3 separate regions of the Homo sapiens genome follow, and all the other regions are linked to region 2. The links come from fine-mapping of genetic effects on gene expression. A gene starts in region 2. Each other region holds a variant in brackets. All regions are shown on one strand. Distances are between the middles of the regions. Region 1 overlaps DPP6 (dipeptidyl peptidase like 6). Region 2 holds the start of DPP6 (dipeptidyl peptidase like 6). Region 3 overlaps LOC102723686 (a long non-coding RNA gene).

What was found. PIP is the estimated chance that this variant, and not a neighbour inherited with it, causes the effect. A credible set is the group of variants that fine-mapping cannot tell apart.
Region 1: its variant is the best candidate, but not a certain one, in a credible set for the expression of DPP6 in skeletal muscle (GTEx, PIP 0.75).
Region 3: its variant is the best candidate, but not a certain one, in a credible set for the expression of DPP6 in esophagus muscle (GTEx, PIP 0.76).

The regions. Positions count from the first base shown.
Region 1 is chr7:154,434,218-154,439,217 of GRCh38, reverse strand. All of the region lies in intron 1 of DPP6 (dipeptidyl peptidase like 6), which reads right to left. Among named protein-coding and RNA genes, the nearest start is that of DPP6, 380 kb to the right of the region's middle. The variant T/C (reference allele first, on the strand shown) is at 2,249.
Region 2 is chr7:154,049,904-154,054,903 of GRCh38, reverse strand. DPP6 (dipeptidyl peptidase like 6) reads right to left here and starts at 2,506. Exons shown (of 26, transcript NM_130797.4): 1 at 1,841-2,506. The coding sequence starts at 2,083. RefSeq lists an enhancer at 3,013-3,615.
Region 3 is chr7:153,230,552-153,241,033 of GRCh38, reverse strand. It overlaps LOC102723686 (a long non-coding RNA gene), which reads right to left. Exons shown (of 10, transcript XR_007060599.1): 6 at 3,684-3,730; 7 at 2,090-2,154. Among named protein-coding and RNA genes, the nearest start is that of LINC01287, 180 kb to the left of the region's middle. The variant T/C (reference allele first, on the strand shown) is at 5,816.

The sequences.
Region 1 (5,000 bases), 380 kb before region 2:
AGTTTTCTATACTGGGTAGATTTTTGGCACGCTCAACACATCACTTCTCAATGTCAAAAATCCCTGCAGGCACTCAATAAATATTAAGTAACTAACAAACTAGCCTCAAAGGCAAGAACCACCAGCAATTGAATGGCAGAGACTAAAGTAATTGGAGCTCACTTTTTAAAAAGGGCTTGCCACCCTGGTACAATGTTCCAGCACGGTACAGAGGCATTGTGAAGAGCATCCCAGTCAGAATGATCGGAGCTGCCCTCCTCCTCCACCCATGGGCCCTGGAAGCCACATTTCTAGTCTGTGAGCCCCCTCCTCTCCTCCTCAGCCAGAGACAATTAATTGGCCTAACCTAGGTCAAAAGTCTGCTCCAGGATTTGTGGTGTGAGATTAAAATATTCCAAGTCGTTCTTGGCTGCTGTCACAAACCATGAGAACGGAAGGTGGGGAGGGAAGTTAAGTGCCTGCTGCCATATGGTGTAAAGATTCCAAAGGAAATAAAGCAGATTTACAGAATGAGAGGAATGAAGTAGAGAGGTTCAGAACCAAAGAGAATGAAAAGCAAAGAGACAAAGGCAAAAAGGTAAGAAGCTCAAAGAGACAGAATGAGCTCCTCTTGGCTTTCCATTTTTGATGTACTTTTCCTCCTGAGGCCTGGATGCATTTTTCCCTTGGATTTAATAATGCACTCCTGTTACTTTAGGAGATATTTCTTTTTTTCTTTTCTTTTTTTTTTTTTTTTTTTTTTTTTTTTGAGTTGGAGTCTCACTCTGTCACCCAGGCTGGAGTGCAGTGGTGCTATCTCGACTCACTGCAAGCTCCGCCTCCTGGGTTCACGCCGTTCTCCTGACTCAGCCTCCTGAGTAGCTGGGACTACAGGCTCCCGCCACCACGCCCGGCTAATTTTTTTGTATTTTTTTAGTCGAGACGGGGTTTCACCGTGTCAGCCAGGATGGTCTCGATCTCCTGACCTTGTGATCCACCCTCCTTGGCCTCCCAAAGTTCTGGGATTACAGGCATTTGCCACAGTGCCCAGCCTTTAGGAGATATTTCATTTTCCATTTTACTTAAACTAATTTGAGTGGGTTTCTGAAACTCAAAAACAAAAGCCGAATGTACAGCAAGCATTGATGCTTCATCCAGCGCCTGCTCCCTGGTTCCTGAGGGGTATGCTCCTGTGTCTGCGGCATATTCTAGCTACACTTACACTCGAAGACTAGGTGGAAATTCCAACAACACTCTTGGTTTACAATTTAATTTAGTTTTATTTTATTTTTATGTTATTTTTTCAGATGGAGTCTCACTGTCATCCAGGCTGGAGTGCAGTGGCGTGATCTTGGCTCACTACAATCTCTGCCTCCTGGGTTCAAACATTTCTCCCTGCCTCAGCCTCCCAAGTAACACGGATTACAGGCGTCCACCACCGTGTCCAGCTAATTTTTGTATTTTTAGCAGAGACTGGGTTTCGCCATGTTGGCCAGGCTGATCTTGAACTCCTGGACTCAAGGGATCCGCCCACCTCAGCCTCTCAAAGTGCTGGAATTACAGGCATGAACCACCACACCTGGCCTTTGGTTTACAATTTTAAAATAACTAATTTGCTAATTTGATGTATACATTTTCTTTGAAAAGGCTGGTGATTCTACTAGCAGGTAGAGTTATTTTCCCAGGGAAACTGAGTGGAATTTTGCAATTACCTTAACAGATTTTCAAGAATCAAATTTGTCATCATCCACCAGCCTTGTAGTATGGGCCCCTCTGTGACAGGAGGAAGCTAATTTAAGGGGAAGCAAATGCCAGCCAAGACAGTTGGCACGGCAGAATGTTCACGGGTCTCAAAGAGGATGGGCTCTTCCTGAGGTCTTCACTATTTTAGGTATCAAATTACTCAAAAAGAAAGCTGTAGTATTTTTAAACTATAGCTGGCCTAGAATGGAATCTATTCATTAGATCCATGTTAAACAGCTATTAGCCTAGTATCAGAATTTTCACATAATCCAGTATAATGGAAAAACAAATAGCATCAGAGAAATGATTGGCTGCAGAGAGGCAATTGATGAGTAATCTTACTATCTTTATTCACCTGTAACCTTAGTCTCCTTTGTCAGGGAAGCTAACATAGTCACAGGTACCAGGGAATGGGATACGGACATCTTCATGGGGTGTCATTGGTCTGTCTACCAGAGTGGTGTATTCCATGTAACAGAATGCCATATAGCCATGCAAATCACAACCTCTGACTACATGCACAGCA[T/C]GAATGAACCTCACAAATATAATTTTAAGTGACATAGATCAGACAGTAAAGAATATAAGATGAATATTTCTTTTTGTAAAAAGTTCCACAGTGGGCAAACTACACTAAGTGAGTGGTTCACACGTAAGTTCATGAAGACAAGCCAGAAAGACATTTCCATGAAATCCAGGATGCTGCATAACTCAACGGGGAGAGAGAAGTTGCCACTGGAAAGAGGAAGTCAAGGTACAGGAGCTGCGGGGTACTGGCTGTCCTCTGTTTCTAGACCTGAATGGGCTATTTCACATTAGGAAATTCAGGTTACACTCACCCATTAAGCTGTGAGTTTACATGTTCCATAGTTTTTGCATTATAATATTTCACAATAGCAATGGTTAACCACGTGTACTGGATACCAATGTTGTGACAGTGAGCATTGGCCTAACGTGCTGAACTGAAGAGACATCCCTACACTTGCACGCGGTGGGAGAGACCTCAGGCAAACCCAGTGACACTGTGAGGTGGGGCAGTGGGCAGGAATTCCATGTGTCAAGAGGGCGTATAATGATGGGGCATGTGCTGATTTTTACTGAGGTGTTGGGGCAAGCAAGGGTGCTCTGAGGAAGAGAATTTGAGCTGAGAGTTGAAGAGTATACAGGAAGGAGGTGGTGACCAGCTGGGGCAGGTTTCCCATGCAATGGAGCGGTTGTAACCTGGTGCATGTGTGGCTACATGTCAGGAGTGAGGCGTGAAGCATCCGAGATGAAGCTGGACAGACAGGCACAAAGAAAACCAGGCCCAGCCTCGTGGACCGTGCCACTGGTCTTGCCTTTTATCCAAAACACAATAGGAAGCCAGGGGAGGATTCTGTAAGCCACCTCAAATAAGTTCCAGAAGAAGTCAGATATTAATTATTCAGTTCATCTACTGACATCAGAAAAGTGCCTAGAGAAAGGTCAGGATTGGTTCCTTCTCCCACTGTGCCTTAAAATATGTCAAATATCAGGCCAATGTGGAATTGAGCACCGTAAAAAGTAAGATATTCACACAGCTACTATAAAAAATATTGGGAGAAAATAAACGACACATACATGACTGCAGGATCTCCCATTACACTGCTTCCTTCTATTGTCTAAATGTATTTTCTTCCTAATATTTATTCACTGTGAAAAGCTCTGACATAAATTTCTTTTATGTATCATGGACCATTTACTATAAGTAGAAGGTAGCAACAAATTACAAAATCAATGGTGCACATATCTCAGGATGGTAAAACAGCCTTCTAATCATTGTATTTCCATATTCAGGAGGACAGCAAATGATGATAGGATGGCAAGAACAAGTTTTAAATAACATTTAGCAGCTGACACGTGTCCGTCAATAATCATCCAGGAGCCTGGGGGGTGCACATCCCCGTCTCTGTTTCACTGGCTCATTTACTCAGTCTTCATTATTGGTGGCTCTTCTCTTTCCACAAAGGTGATAAAAGCCAACACAGATCATAATTAACACAAGGACTTAGGGGTAGATGGAGGAAAATGCAGGACTCTGCATGGTTCCAACCTCACAGAAGATGGCAAAGAGGATCCGATGAGGTCATCTCCACTAGTGAAACTGGTGGGAAAGCGTTGGCCCAGTGCAGCGTGTGGCAGCAACTCACAGGAACGTGCAATGAATTTGGTGTGATCTCTCAGTACCCCCTCCCATTCCTCCCTCTTTCTTTCTCTCTCGTCCTCCTTCTCCTTGTTCTCTCTCTGTCTCTCTGTCCCTGTTGCTCTTTCAATGTCCCTCTGCCACTCTCTCTCACACAAACATAATTAATGCCTAGTAATCCACAATTTAAATGAAATTCTCAGCCAGGAATGGTGGCTCATGCCTGTAATTCCAGCACTTTGGGAGGCTGAGACAGGTGGATCACCTGAGGTCAGGAGTTCAACACCAGCCTGGCCAACATGGTGAAACACTATCTCTACTAAAAATACAAAAAGTAATGGGGCATAAGGGCGTGTGCCTGTAATCCCAGCTACTTGGGAGGCTGAGGCAGGAGAATTGCTTGAGAACCTGGGAGGCAGAGGTTGCAGTGAGCCGAGATTGCACCACTGCACTTTAGCCTGGGTGACCAGAGCGAGACTCCATCTCAAAAAATAAAAATAAAAATAGAATAAAATAAATTCTCTCTGCTTGGGAACAGCCATGAACATAAAAGCAACAACAACAAACAAGAAATGTCTGAGTATGAGCAGGCCCTGATCAAAAACGTGGAAGAGACTCAACTGTCTAGAGAGTCATTAATTCAGTCATTTCTGTGATGGGTTATTTTGCTGATCAGAAGATAAGAGCACTTTGATTGGAAAATGCTGATGATCCCAGTTGCACTCCCACAGCTCAGGTGAGCAGCTCAGAAACAAAGGTGGGAGAAGAGAAGGAATATGAAGACAAGAATTTACCATGATGGACTGGGAGAAAAATGGAAGAGCACGTCAGATGCAGGAGAGTGGGAAGCAGATCCCAACCCCAAAGCCAGCAGCAAGCAGAGAGGGAAGGGTGAAGCGGCGGCTGAAGAGTCCAGCAGTCTGGACCTTCAGGGTGAAAGCCAGCAGCCACATGCTTCTAAAGGCCCTGCAGGCACGATATCTGTGTGGAAACTATAACTCTGCAGTGTCACAAAAGGAGAAAATACGGGCTTAGGGTGGCTTTTTGTTTGTTTTACAGCAGCATGGTACATTTCCAAATAATTTCTACCTGAAACTATAGAAACATAGTCTGCACTTTA
Region 2 (5,000 bases):
TCATCTGAAATAAAATTCAGAGCTCTTGCCTTTCCTTTCTCCTAGCGACACCTAGAGCCTGTTGAGAAAAAAACTGCACATTGTTCTCATTCCAAACATCCACAATTCAACAATTTTAAGTCAGATTTAAGGTAAAAAGTACATTTTTCCTGTTTGCATTGCAGCTTAACTGTCTTCCCCAAGATTCTCGGTAGTTTAATCCTCCAGAACTCTTCACCCTCCCCCAATTAAACCATTTGCCAAAGACTTGAACCAGATGACTGAAGGATCTGTCTATTTCCCTCAGGGCTTGGCCCACCAAAGTGAGGGACATGCCTTTGAATGACTATTTAACCAGGGGAGTCTGGAAACGATGCAGGAGAAAATCACAAAACCTCATGCAAAATCTGACGCAGGGCTGTAGGGGGTGTGTACCTGTGTGTGTGCAAACCACATCTCCCACAAAGTTTTGTGATCTCCATTAAAGTTTCCACATCCTTCATTCATAAAACAAAAACTACCAATAACAACAGCAAAACCTCACTGATTTCATAGTATCTGGCAATTAGGAATTGTCCCTGGGAAATCACTCAATGTCTCACCCCTCCCTCGACCCAAACACAACTCTTGCACTAAAGAAATACGAAACAGGGAACCAGCGTGGCTGGAGGCTGCAGAGAGGTAATGACCAAAACCACCTACTCAGTGCCCGGCAATGTACTGCCCTGGGTATGTCAGGGTAGACTAAGTGAGAGGCCGGTGGGACCCCTGCGGTTCCCAGGTTGAGCAGTTGTGAAACTCCTCAAAGGCATACATAGTAATTTCTACAAACCAACACAGCCTAGCTGTTATAAGAGCTGTACCAGCCAAGCCAGACCTGTTTCTCTGAGAGCCTGTCGGGGATTTTTCTCTTTTCCCTGGGAAAAGAAGGCCTCAAAGAAAAAGCACAGTTTCCTCCCTTCTAAGTCCTAGCAGCCCTCTGCATCCTTGAAAGGGATCCACAGGAGGTGGTTAAACGCATCCATCTAAGGTCCGGCTCCTGTCCTGCATGAGTCATTGGTTACTAGGGCGATGTGCAAATCCAACCTTTGAAACCCAGGCTTCCAGCCCCCATGAAGAGTAGGAAATGTGCTCTCGGAGAAGTTTTCACTGAACACGGTCTAAGGCAGAGGTGCTAGTCCAGGGCTGGGAGGGGAGACAGACACGGCCTGAGGGCTCTCAGCAAAAGAGCTGGGCCCTGGGACAGAGGGTTGGGGCTCAGATGCCAGTATTTTGGTATTTTTTTTTTCCGGAAAGGATAATCACCATCACCACCGCTGGGGGGAAAAAGTGTCTAGGAGAAGTAAGAAGAGGAACGAAGGAGAGGCATTTGAGTCAAGGGACAGAGTGAGTAGGAGAGGAGGGGCACGATGGAGAGATTCCAGACACAGGTGGGAGGGAGAGAAGGTGCCTGAGGCTGTGTTCCCGGAGCACGAAATAAATAAAAAATAAACCAACTCGTAAGCACAGGCCGATCGAATTCTCTCCTTAGGAACCATAGCAGCATGCTGTTAAAAACAGACATCCGCGCACCCAGGGAACGTAAGGCGAATTCCAGATCCCAGCAGGCGCAGTACCCAAACCCCGCTCTCTCCAGCCACCAACTCCCGGCCGCCGCGGCTGCAGACACAGACCCGCTCCCTCCGGGACGCGGTGACCGCGATCTGGCGCCACGGAGCCTGTCTGGGGGCGCCCGGAGAGTCGTGGGCGGGGGGAGGGCGCCTGATTCCCCCCCCAAAAAAAATTTCCCCTGCCGACGCGTCTCGCTGCGCGCTCAGCCCGGAGAACCCGCCGCCGCCCCCCGCCCCCGAGAAGCTCTTACGTCCTCCTCGTCACCATCGCTCCGCGCCTGGTACTGGAACCGGGGCCGGCCACCCGCGCCGCCGCCGCCGCCGCCGCGCTCCCGGGGCGCCGCCGCCTGCGCCCGCGGGCCGAGGGGCTTGGCTCCTGCGCCGCCGTCCTCCTCGGGCCCCTGGCCGCCCAGGAGGTGACTCGCCTCCGGGGGCGCGGGGAAGGACCTCGAGGTGTTGATCTTGCCAGTGAACCTCTGGTACAGCGAAGCCATCGGGCACCGCGCTCCTGCTGGCTGTCTTTGGGGCTTTTTAATATTTTGCTTTCTCTCCGGTTCCCACTCCCCACCCCGCTCCAGATTAAAAAAAAAAAAAGGCGGTGGGGAGGCAGCAGCAGCAGCAGCAGCAAGGCAAGCCCAGCGCCGGCGGCCGCTCCTCCCGCGCGCCACTCGCGAGTCTCCGCTGGCGACTCTGCCTGGCTCAGCCTCCTCCGCCCCCTCCCCGGCGGCTCGCGAAGCCGGGGCTCTGGCTGTGCTTTCTCTCTTTCCTGTTTTTATAATTTTTTTCCCCAACTCCTTGCCACAGCCACGTACGGCCTAATCAAAGAGATTGAAGGAAGAAAAAAAACCAAAAACATAAAGCGAGGGAAATGCCTAGGCCCCAGAATTTGGCACCACCTAGAGACCGGCACACATTCCGAGCGCTCTCCTCGCTCCCCGCCCCCAGGCCCCTCGCGCAGCTCCTCCTCCACCCCGGCCCCTCCGCCCCCTTCCCCACCGGCCTCCTCCCCGCGCCCGGGACTGGCACCTGGGTGGCAGGGGTTGGCAGCCCGGAGAGGGCACGGGGTCGCACAAAAGGGTGCGAGGGTGCGTGAAGAGGGTGGAGGGGCTGGGACCACGCGGGTCGTGGGTGCGGGGGCGGTGGGGGAGTCCCGGGAGCTCAGGGTGCTGCGGCCCCACCGAAGGTAGTGCTGCGAGTGCCCCGCAGCACGCGAGCGGACGGTGCAAGGGGATGCGGAGGTCGAGGCAGGCAGGCCGGCCAGGGGGCGACTGAAGGTGCAGCCGGCCCCGGGGCGCCCCAGCCACGCACGCGCTGCGGCGCCGGGCTCCCCGCGCCCCCAGCTCCTCTTGCCTAACTTGAAGCAACACCAGAGACACCCCGAGGACCTGGGGTGCGAATGGGGCGTGGGAGAGCCACCAGGAGGGCGCGGGGTGGTCGGACGACGCTGGTGAAGAGGCCGCCCTCCCTCCACAGCCCAGCTCCCTCCGAAACCGCCCCTTCCCTTCGCCTCTCTCCGGAGGAGGGCAGGAAAGGTCGCGGGGCGGCAGAGGACGCCCAGAGGCCCAGGCGCCCCTCGCGGGCGATGCGCCCCGCAGAGAGCCCGGCTGTGACCGCGACTCCATTCTCATTATCATGAACGCAGGCGGAGGCTCGGCTCTCCGGCTGCCCGCAACTTTTCCAAAGCCTGCGCCTCACTGTGCCCGCCGAGAGCGAGGGAGGGCGACATGGCTCCACTCGCCGCGCGCTCTCGGGCTTGCCTCCTGCCCAGCCGCAGGAAGGCGCGCTCCAGCGCCCCTGTGTGGACACCCGCACCAGCGGGCTCCGCTCCTCCGCTCCAGGCCCGGCCTGGCTTCTCTTCCCCTCCCGGCCCTCCCGCGTCCTCCCCGGCTCCCTTCTGCACTCCTCTCCGTCCTTCTGGAGTTGCTGGGCACGCGTCTCTCTCGTCTCGTCCCCACGTCCTCCTTGCGCGCCCCTTCCAGCCCTTCCCGGCCGGGAAGGACCTATCACATCCAGAGAGTGAACGTGGGCCGGGAAACCCCAACTCCAGAGGGGGGAACCTGTGAGACCCGACCCTGCCCATTCCGCCGCCTCCTTCCACATGGAGGTAGGGCGTTGGCTTCATCTCCCAGGACTGCCTAAGGCTCCCTGCTCCTTCCGGGTTTCCATGCCTGTTTCCACTTAGGGTTTCAAAATAACAGCCTCGGCTGCCACTCACAAGGCTGACTGCAGGCTCGCCCCCAGCCCTGGCATTGCCCCAAGCCCAGAGAGAGGCCTGCCTGGGCCTGAAACTGCATGCTCCCTCTGTTTCCCTAACTGCGGGGGAGAATACTGGATGCCGGTGAACAAGTCTCCTGGGAAGAGACCTCCTTCAGTCCCTTCCACCTGCCTCCCTTCCCCAAGCTTTCAATCCAGTGTGTAGTTTTTGGTTTAACCAAAATTTGTACCACGCTCATCTTCTGTTTACTCCACAGTAGTTACCCTTTACTATGAAGAAACATGAGTTTAAAAACACTTTAAAAAATAGCAAATACAAAACCAAGTAAAACCAGGATTGCAACAGCTAAGCGAAACTTGCTGCATGGGAGAGGCCAGGCAGGTGGGTCTGGGGTGGGGAGAGCTTCAGCTGCTCCATTTGACTTTGAAGACAGAGGCAACAGAGCCATAAAACTAAACTTTAAAAGTCACCACAATTAGATAGATAGAAAACCTTGCTCTCAACCCCCTCCTCTGCCCCAGCTGTGCTTTTGATGGGAGGAAGCTGCCTCTCCTAACATGGACATGAAAGAAAGCTCATGCTATTCACCGCAGCATCGCGATCCTGACATTTCACTAAATATAGATGCAGTTAGGGTCCCACTTATGTAATATACATACGCTATCTATGAAATATGCATGCATATTTTTACACAAACTAAATGTCATACTAATATAGTTTATACAAAATACAATGATAGATGTGTGCATATTAATCATAGATAGAATACTATTGGGATAAAGCATATGTGCCACTTTTAAAAACTATATTCTCAAGGCATTGTAGGTAACTGTAATCTAACTAAAGTTTAAAATCTCAATTAAATTATCTAAGAAAATATGATAAGCGATTTCTGCTTAAAATTATAAAATGAAATCACCATAAAACTCATAAGCAACAGGGGAAAGAGTTGAAGTAAAAATTTGTGCTGGGAAGCAAATCTCACAATTAAGCAGAAGAAACGGAGGGCAGGAAAGAGCGAGCGTCTGAAAGATGCAGGTGTGAAAGGAGCCGGAATGCTGGGGAGGACTGGAAACAGCATGGATGAACACGAGGATGTTCCTCAAGGATGATCCAGATGGAGCGCCCTTTACCCAAATTGAAAAGCGCTTGGCTATACTCTTGCACCTTGCACACTGAACGCGGTGCTTCTAGGG
Region 3 (10,482 bases), 820 kb after region 2:
CCCCAGCCATGTGGAACTGTGAGTCAATTAAACTCTTTCCTTTATAAACTACCCAGTCATGGGTATGTCTTTATCAGCAGTGTGAGAACAAACTAATACACACTCATAAGTGGGAGCTAAACTGTAAGGACACAAAGGCATAAAAATGGTACATTGGACTTTGGGGACTCGGGAGAAAGGGTGGGGGAGGTGGCAAGGGATAAAAGACTACACATTGGGTACAGTGTACACTGTTCAGGTGATGGGTGCACCAAAAACTCAGAGATCACCACTAAAGAACTTATTCATGTAATCAAACACCACCTGTTCCCCAAAAACCTATTGAAATAAAAAAAAACTTTAAAAAGGTAGTATTATTTAATATTTTAATCAGGACAAAAATCCTTGCTATTGTTAACTAAAATAAAAAAAATAAGTATGTCTTAGCTAATCTTTATTAAATAAATAAATAAGTAAAATTGACCCATCTGATAGAAACTTGATATTGGTGACCAGAGTCTAGTGAATCAGCTGGGTTGAGCAACAGTCAGGGTGTGGGAGAGGATAGTCAGGAAATCTGATTTCTAGTCTTGGCTTGCTACTCATCACAGTTTTTCCCAGGAAAGTTCCTGTACCTCAGTTTTCTGGTCTGTAAAATGAGAGAATATTGCCTGGATACCTCACGAATTGATCATTTCAAGGGAAGCTTGGAAAATAAGGCAATATACAAACCTAAGAAATATGTTTTTGAGGCCAGATGCTCTATGACATGGGTTGATAAACTACACCATTGGGCCCAGCCCAGCCTGCCACCGGCTTGTGTAGGTAAAGTCTTATTGAAGGACAACCATGCCCATTTGTTTACTATTTATCCATGGCTGCTTTTGCACAACAGCAGAGCTGAGTCATCAGAGACCATATGGCCCACAAAGCCTAAAATATTTACTATCTAGCTCTGTATTTAAAAAAAAAAAACTTGCCAACACCGGTCTATCATGTAACTTTGAACTTCATAAATGAATGTATAAAGGTGATTTTAATGAATTATTTTATTCTATGTCTACTGCGTATATCTTTCTCTTCCTTCTAAATCTCCTTCCTGATTATAAAGTGACATGGTAGAAAGTCACCTCTTGATTTTGAGGCTTTTTAATTTGACTATAGTTCCCTTAAGAGACTACACAATGTTCATTGTATTTTGGGGATGCCCTCCTCAGAATTTACCTATGGAATGCGTTCATTGCAATGACAATTCTTCCTTTAGTTAGGATGGATTTGAATACTGGAAACACCTACACAGGTGGATGCAAATGTGAAGAAGAAACAATTTCAAGTGTTATTTTGCCATCTTTGAGGCTTCCAGGCCCCAAAGGAGCCCTATGAGTTCCCCTGCTCCCTGCCTTGCTTGTTCCCGTTGGCTGGACCAGTGTCCCCCATCAGTCTCCAATCTCACGTGTCTCCATCCCCTGCTACTCCATGAAACAAACAAGCCAATAACATCCTCCCACAGGCACCAGGGGCCACCACACCCCCTTGTTTCTACAAAGCCTGCCTCCATGCCCCTCTGGTCCACTCTGTTCTTGAGTGCATCCCTCGTGTGGCCCTGCGTGGTGTGTGGCGTCATCTTCCCCAGGCAGGCTGTGGGTATATGTAACTAATAAACTGCTGTTGATCACATCTGTCCAGCACAAGGTGTCATGTGTTCAGCTACCTTGTGCGATTGAAGGGGTTGGGTATTCTTCCTCCACCAACATGGTGAATAATGATGATAGAACAGGGTGCACCTGGGAGCCACCAGCCACCAGGCTATGGGTAAATCATCTCTAAAGAAAGGATCTTGGCAAAGCACCACAGTCTTCATTAAAGTTAATCCCTTCCACTTCACAGATCAACTTGCTTTTTACATTAAGTTTGTCTCATTTGAGTATAGCACTGGGATCACTGAGCACCAAAGAGATTCTTCCCTATGTCCACTGTGTGGCAGCAGGCCTACCTCCCACTGGTAATGAGTCAATTTTCCCTGCAGGTTGTGACTTTTCTCTTCTGGATGGTTTATTGGCACCAAGTGATCAAGCAGCAGCCATAGCTGAAAGTTCAATGAGACTCTTACCATGTCCACTGGTGGAAGTAATTTCCTTCTGGAAGCCAGGACCTCTTAACAGGTACAGCATGAAACTGCAGGGACCAGAGCAGAAATTTCAAGTGAGTCGAAGAGAGCCATGGAGAACGTGGTGTCATCTCTATTTTCCATTCCTTACACCAAATGAAGACACAGCTGTGTCATATAATAGTCATTGATTTAGGCTGTCTATGCTGCCCTGGAAAACAGCACCTGTGGTAAATTTAAAATGGCTACAGATTTTTTTGCTACTGGTCCCACTGAGATGTCATTGAGAGGGAAAGTCTATTTCCCCTCCTCCTGAATCTGGGCCAGGTCTGTGACTTCTGTGGTTAGTAGTGTGCTACCGAAGTGATACCACATGACTTTCAAGGCTGGGTCATAAGAAACCTTGCAGCTAGGCCTGGAATGTTTGCACTTGGGATCATCCCTCTTGGAATAAGCCATGAGGCTATGAGAAGCCCAAGCCACACGGAGAAGCCACAGTGAGGGCTCCAGTTGATCACCCTGTTGGACTCCCAGCCAATAAGCAGCATCAACTTTAAGCTAATGTGGCTAGAGGGATGAGTTGGGGGAGAGGTGCCAACACAATAATAGAAGATATGTGGTCTGGGCCACCTGCTCATGTAGCTTACTTGTACCTGCTGGATTTGTTCTTGCCTAAACCTACATGCACCATTTCTGTTTTATGATGAATTTCTTCTGGGCTCACTTGCCTATGTCTTTGTGGGTGTGACCCGATGCAGCTCATGACGGGGCACTGGTCACTTGGTCACTTGATGCTCCATGGTCAAACACTGTGCCTCTAGCAGAACCCAGGACAGGGCATGACAGGAGCTACTTTTGGAATGCTTTATAGTTATCTCCTGTGGTTGGTAATGTCCTTGCTCCCAGTAGATCCTAAAGAGATACATTCTGATTATCCAGTTGAAGCTTGCCAAATGTTCCACACAGCATCTTTTCCCACCTTTTTGATACCTACAGGGTCATACATCTGTCAGGTCAAATGACAAAAATGGAAGGACCAGCTGTGCTGCAGCCTGGAAACGATGTAGATGCCAGCCTGGGCTCAGGTTCCACTTAAAAATGCATACCCTCCATGTCTCCTCTAAATGGGTACAATCAGTATTCCCAAGTGCCAAAGATGTTGACTCCATAATCCTGGGTGCCTGCCAAATTCTTCTCATCTTTCTTGACTGTGGGCAATACTAGATTCAACAATTCATCCTTTATTTAGAGGGGATGTCCCAGCAAGTCCCAGACTTCCAGACACCTACAAATTTTGTGACTGTGACAGATCCCTGAACCTTCATAACATTTATTTTTCCATCCTGTGAAGAATGTGAACATATGCCTTATCAAGTTCTCTAACATATTTGCCATTTCTTGTTCATCCAGCATGATTAACATGGTGCCATAGATAGAGTGTACCCATGTAGTATCATAGACAATTCCTAGATGGTCCAGGGATCTTCAGACTATAAAATGACAGATGGTGGGAGAGGTAACATAACCGCAGAGAAAGACTCTAAACATTTACTGTTGTGCTTTTCACATAAACATAAGCTGTTTTTGATCCACCTACCTGATAAAGATGTTAAAAATGTCTTCGCCATCTCCTCAGATGCATACCTAAGAGAGGAAACTGTGTTAATCATGGCTTAGTATGTGCAATTATCTGGTCCTTTTGATCCTTTCTTCTACCATCTGTCATGACAACTCTGGCATTTCTGCTTCACTTACTCTGGGCCATTGATTTTCTCAAGAATTTCAAGAGCCATCCTGGCAACATATCAGCCCCATTCCCATGGTCCTTGCCAGTTGTTATATCTTCTATTGTAAGGTATTGCTTCCACGTCCATAACCTCTCCTTCACCCAATTCTATGTTCTGCCCCTCCTTGATCCAGCACCCTTGGGACAACTCCCATGCCTGCTAGCAGACCCTGGAGGACTTCGGATTATGAGCCTCCTCCTCACTTGGCAGCTCAGCATGACCCTCTTTGGGCTCTGCTGGGATTTGACACTTGTTATTAGATTGCTGCCAGAAACACCCTGAAGGGGAAGGCATTGTCTTTTAAGAAACTTGACTCTTTTGAAACCTCTGCATAATCTTCAAGCAAGGAGCCATCTTTTAGCAAGATGGAATAGGCCACTTCTTTAGGACGAGCAATACGAGAGATGCTGGATGCTGAAGTTTCTCAAGAGCATCTACTCACCCACCCTAATCTCAGACCTCAGGTTTTCACTCTGTTATTGGGCTTAATTTTGTCTCCCACAAAATATGCTGAAGTCCCAATCTCCAAGACCTGGGAAAGTGACCTTATTTGGAAATAAAGTCTTTACTGAGGTAATCAAGTTAAAATAAGATCATTATGGTGAACCGTAATCCAATATAACTGTTGTTCTTATACAAAGGGGAAATCTGGACACAGAAACAGACATGACACAGGGAGAACGCCATATGAAGATAAAGGCAGAGATTGGGATGATGCATCTAGATGCCAAAAAACACCAGTGATAGAAAACCACTAGAAGATAGGGAAGAGGCACAAAACAGATTCTCCCTCACAGTCCCCAGAAGGAACCCCCCCGCCAACATTTCTGTCTGAGACCTCCAGCCTGCAGAACCATAAGACAACCTTTTCCTGTGGTTGAGCCACTCAGTTCTGCTTTGTTACCAGAACCCAAGGACACTAATGCAAACTCCTTCCCTTCTGGAGTTCCCAGGCTGACAGGAACTGCACTTCTATTTAGGTCTCTCTCTTGCCCATTTGGATCGTCTATTCTAGGGGAAGTTGTGTCATGAGCAGCCCCATGGAAAGGCCCACATGGTGAGGCAATGAAGCCTCCTGCCAAGTCACATAAGTGAGCTTGGGCACAGGACCTCCATCCCCCATTGCGATGGTCATAGCCCTGGCCAACAGCTTGACTGCAACCTCGAGAGAGACCTTGAGCCAGATCCACCCAGCTAAGTCAAGCCTGTTCATAATTTTTTTTTTTGAGACAGAGTTTTGCTCTTGTTGCCCAGGCTGGCATGCAATGGCACAATCTCAGCTCACTGCAACCTCCACCTCCTGAGTTCAAGCAATTCTTCTGCCTCAGCCTCCCAAGTAGCTGGGATTACAGGTGCCCACCACCACGCCTGACTAATTTTTTGTATTTTTAGTAGAGACAGGGTTTCACCATGTTGGTCAGGCTGGTCTTCAACTCCTGACCTCAGGTGATCCATCCGCCTGGGCCTCCCAAAGTGCTGGGATTATAGGCATGAGCCATCGTGCCCAGCAAGCCTGTTCATAATTTTAAGCTGCTAAGATTTGGGCTACACTGTAGTGCCACAACAGTTAATACAGATGGCCTTCAGGATTTCAGAGACTGAGACATTTTCATCTGTATTCCTCATTAACAAGCTCATTTGGAGGGTAGTACAAGGTTAGGACATTTTTACTGGGAACAGAGCAGTTTGCTGTGTGAAAAATTAATGTGTTTACGATAGCTGAATAGGAACAGCTCCAGTCTGCAGCTCCCAGCAAGACTGATGCAGAAAGCAGGTGATTTATGCATTTCCAACTGAGGTACACGGCTCATCTCATTGGGACTGGTTAGACAGTAGGAGCAGCCCACAGAGGGTGAGCTGAAGCAGGGTGGGGCATCGCCTCACCTGGGAAGTGCAAGGAGTCGGGAACTCCCTCCCCTAGCCAAGGGAAGCCCTGAGGGAC[T/C]GTGCCATGAGGAACAGTGCTATCAGGTGCAGATGCTATGGTTTTCCTATGGTATTCACAACCCGCAGACCAGGAGATTCCCTCTGGTGGCTACACCATCAGGGCCCTGGGTTTCAAGCACAAAACTGGGCAGCCATTTAGGCAGACACCAAGCTAGCTGCAGGAGTTTTTTTTCATACCCCAGTGGTACCTGGAATGCCAGTGAGACAGAACTGTTCACTCCTCTGGATAAAGGGCTGAAGCCAGGGACCCAAGTGGTCTAGCTCAGCAGATCCCATCCCCACAGAGCCCAGCAAACTAAGATCCACTGGCAGTCTGAAGATCCAGTCTGAAGATCCAGCACTCTGAATTTGACCAGAGACACTCGAGCTTGGTGGGTGGAGGGGCGTCCACCATTACTGAGGCTTGAGTAGGCATTTTCCCCCTCACAGTGTAAACAAAGCCGCAGGGAAGTTCAAACTGGGCGGAGCCCACCACAGCTCAGCAAAGCCACTGTAGCCAGACTGCCTCTCTATATTTCTTCTCTCTGGTCAGGGCATCTCTGAAAGAAAGGCAGCAGCCCAGTCAGGGGCTTATAGATAAAAGTCCCATCTCCCTGGGACAGTGCACCTAGGGGAAGGGGCAGCTGTGGGTGCAGCCTCAGCAGACATAAATGTTTGTGCCTGCCGGCTCTGAAGAGAGCAGCAGCTCTCCCAGCACAGCACTCGAGCTCTGCTAAGGGACAGACTGCCTCCTCAAGTGGGTCCCTGACCCCCATGACTCCTGACTGGAAGACACCTCCCAGCAGGGGTCGACAGACACCTCATACAGGAGAGCTCCAGCTGGCAACTAGCAGGTGCCCCTCTGGGATGAAGCTACCAGAGGAAGGAACAGGCAGCAATCTTTGCTGTTCTGCAGCCTCCGCTGGTGATACCCAGGAAAACCAGATCTGGAGTGGACCTCCAGCAAACTCCAGCAGACCTGCAGCAGAGGAGCCTGACTTTTAGAAGGAAAACTAACAGAAAGGAATAGCATCAACATCAACAAAAAGAATGTCCACACAAAAACCCCACCCAAAGGTCACCAGCATCAAAGACCAAAAATAGATAAATCCACAAGATAGGGAAAAAACAGCGCAAAAAGGCTGAAAATTCCCCAAACCAGAATACTTCTTCTCCTCTAAAAGATCACAACTCCTTGCCAGCAAGGGAACAAAACTGGATGGAGAATGAGTTTGACGAATTGACAGAAGTAGGCTTCAGAAGGTAGGTAATAACAAACTCCTCCAAGCTAAAGGATCACGTTCTAACCCAATACAAGGAAGCTAAGAACCTTGATAAAAGGTTACAGGAACTGCTAACTAGAATAACCAGTTTAGAGAAGGACATAAATGACCTCATGGAGCTGAAAAATACAGCACAAGGACTTCATGAAGCACACACAAGTATCAATAGCCAAATTCATCAAGTGGAGGAAAGGATATCAGAGACTGAAGATCAACTTAATGAAATAAAGTGTGAAGACAAGATTAGAGAAAAAAGAATGAAAAAGCCTCCAAGAAATACGGGACTGTGTGAAAAGTCCAAACCTACATTTGATTAGTGGACCTGAAAGTGACAGGGAGATTGGAACCAAGTTGGAAAACACTCATCAGGATATTATCCTGGAGAAATTCCCCAACCTAGCAAGACAGGCCAACATTCAAATTCAGGAAGTACAGAGAACACCACAAAGATACTCCACAAGGAGAGCAACCCCAAGACACATAATCATCAGATTCGCCAAGGGTGAAATGAAGGAAAAAAATGTTAAGAGCAGCCAGAGAGAAACATCAGGTTACCCACAAAGGGAAGCCTATCAGACTAACAGTGGATCTCTCTGCAGAAACTGCACAAGCCAGAAGAGAATGAGGGCCAATATTCAACATTCTTAAAGAAAAGAATTTTCAACCCAGAATTTCATATCCAGCCAAACTAAGCCTTAGAAGTGAAGGAGAAATAAAATCCTTTACAGACAAGCAAATGCTGAGAGATTTTGTCACCACCAGGCCTGCCTTACAAGAGCTCCTGAAGGAAGCATTAAACATGGAAAGGAAAAACCAGTACCCGCCACTAAAGATACCAAATTGCAAAGACCATCGACACTATGAAGAAACTGCATCAACTAATGGGCAAAATAACCAGCTAGCATCATAATGACAGGATCAAATTCACACATAACAGTACTAACCTTAAATAAAAATGGGCTAAATGCCCCAATTAAAAGACACAGACTGGCAAATTGGATAAAGAGGCAAGACCCATTGGTGTGCTGTATTCAGGAGACCAATCTCACATGCAAAGACACACATACGCTCAAAATAAAGGGATGGAGGAATATTTACCAAGCAAATGGAAAGCCAAAAAAAAAAAAAAAAAAAAAAGCAGGGGTTCTAATCCTAGTCCCTGATAAAACAGACTTTAAACCAACAAAGATCAAAAAAGACAAAGAAGGGCATTACATAATGATAAACGGATCAATGCAACAAGAAGAGCTAACTATCCTAAATATACATGCACCCAGATTCATCAAGCAAGTTCCTAGAGACCTACAAAGAGACTTAGACTCCCACACAATAATAGTGGGAGACTTTAACACCCCATGTCAATATTAGACAGATCAATGAGACAGAAAATTAACAAGGATATTCAGGATTTGAACTCAGCTCTGGACCAAGAGGACCTAACAGACATCTACAGAACTCTCCACCCAAAATCAACAGAATATACGTTATTCTCAGCACCACATCACACTTATTCTAAACTTGACCATATAATTGGAAGTAAAACACTCCTCAGCAAAGGCAAAAGAACAGAAATCATAACAAACAGTCTCTCAGACCACAGTGCAATCAAATTAGAACTCAGGATTAAGAAACTCACTCAAAACCGCACAATTACATGGAAACTAAACAATCTGCTCCTGAAAGACTATTGGGTAAATAACAAAATTAAGGTAGACATAAATAATTCCTTGAAACAAGTGAGAACAAAGACACAATGTACCAGAACCTCTGGGAAACAGCTAAAGTAGTGTTTACAGAGAAATTTATAGCACTAAATACCCACAGGAGAAAGCAGGAAAGATAAAATTGACACCCTAACATCACAATTAAAAGAACTAGAGAAGCAAGAACAAACAAATTCAAAAGCCAGCAGAAAACAAGAAATAACTAAGATCAGAGCAGAACTGAAGGAGATAGAGACACAAAAAAAACCCTCAAAAAATCAATGAATCCAAGAGCTGCTTTTTTGAAAAGATTAACAAAATAGATAGACTGCTAGCCAGACTAATAAAGAAGAAAAGAGGGAAGAATCAAATGGACACAATAAAAATGATAAAGGGGATTTCACCACTGATCCCACAGAAATGCAAACTATCATCAGAAAATACTATAAACACCTCTATGCAAATAAACTAGAAAATCTAGAAGAAATGAATAAATTCCTGGACACACACACCCTCCCAAGTCTAAACCAAGAAGAAATTGAATCCCTGAATAGGCCAATAACAAGTTCTGAAATTGAGGCAGTAATTAACAACCTGCCAACCAAAAAAAAAAAGCCCAGGACCAGACGGATTCACAGCTGAATTCTACCAAAGGTAGAAAGAGGAGCTAGTACCATTCCTTCTGAAACTATTCCAAAAAATAGAAAAAGAGGGCCTCCTTCCTAATGCATTTTATGAGGCCAACATCATCCTGATACCAAAACCTGTCAGAGATACAACAAAAAAAGAAAATTTTGGGCCAATATCCCTGATGAACATCAATGCAAAAATCCTCAATAAAATACTGGCAAAGTGAATCCGGCAGCACATCAAAAAGCTTACCCACCACTATCAAATCGGTTTCATCCCTGGCATGCAAGGATGGTTCAACATACACAAATCAATAAACATAATCCATCATATAAACAGAACCAATGACAAAAACCACATGATTATCTCAACAGATGCAGAAAAGGCCTTTGATACAATTCAACATCTCTTCATGCTAAAAACTCTCAATAAACTAGGTATTGATGGAACCTATCTCAAAATAATAAGAGCTATTTATGACAAACCCACAGCCAATATCATACTGAATGGGCAAAAGCTGGAAGTATTCCCTTTGAAAACTGGCACAAGACAAGGATGCCCTCTCTCACCATTCCTATCCAACATAGTATGGGAAGTTCGGTCCAGGGCAATTAAGCAAGAGAAAGAAATAAAGGGTATTCGAATAGGAAGAGAGGAAGTCCAACTGTCTCTGTTTGCAGATGACATGATTGTGTATTTAGAAAATCCCATCATCTCAGCCCCAAATCTCCTTAAGCTGATAGGTAACTTCAGCAAAGTCTCAGGATACAAAATCAATGTGTGAAAATCACTAGCATTCCTAGACCAATAATAGACAAACAAAGAGCCAAATCATGAGTGAACTCCCATTCACAATTGCTACAAAGAGAATAAAATACCTAGGAATACAATTTACAAGCAATGTGAGGGACCTCTTCAAGGAGAACTACAAACCACTGCTCAAGGAAATAAGAGAAGACACAAACAAATAGAAAAACAATCCATGCTCATGGATAGGATAAATTGATATCGTGAAAATGGCCATACTGCCCAAAGTAATTTACTGACTCAATGCTATCCCCATCAAGCTA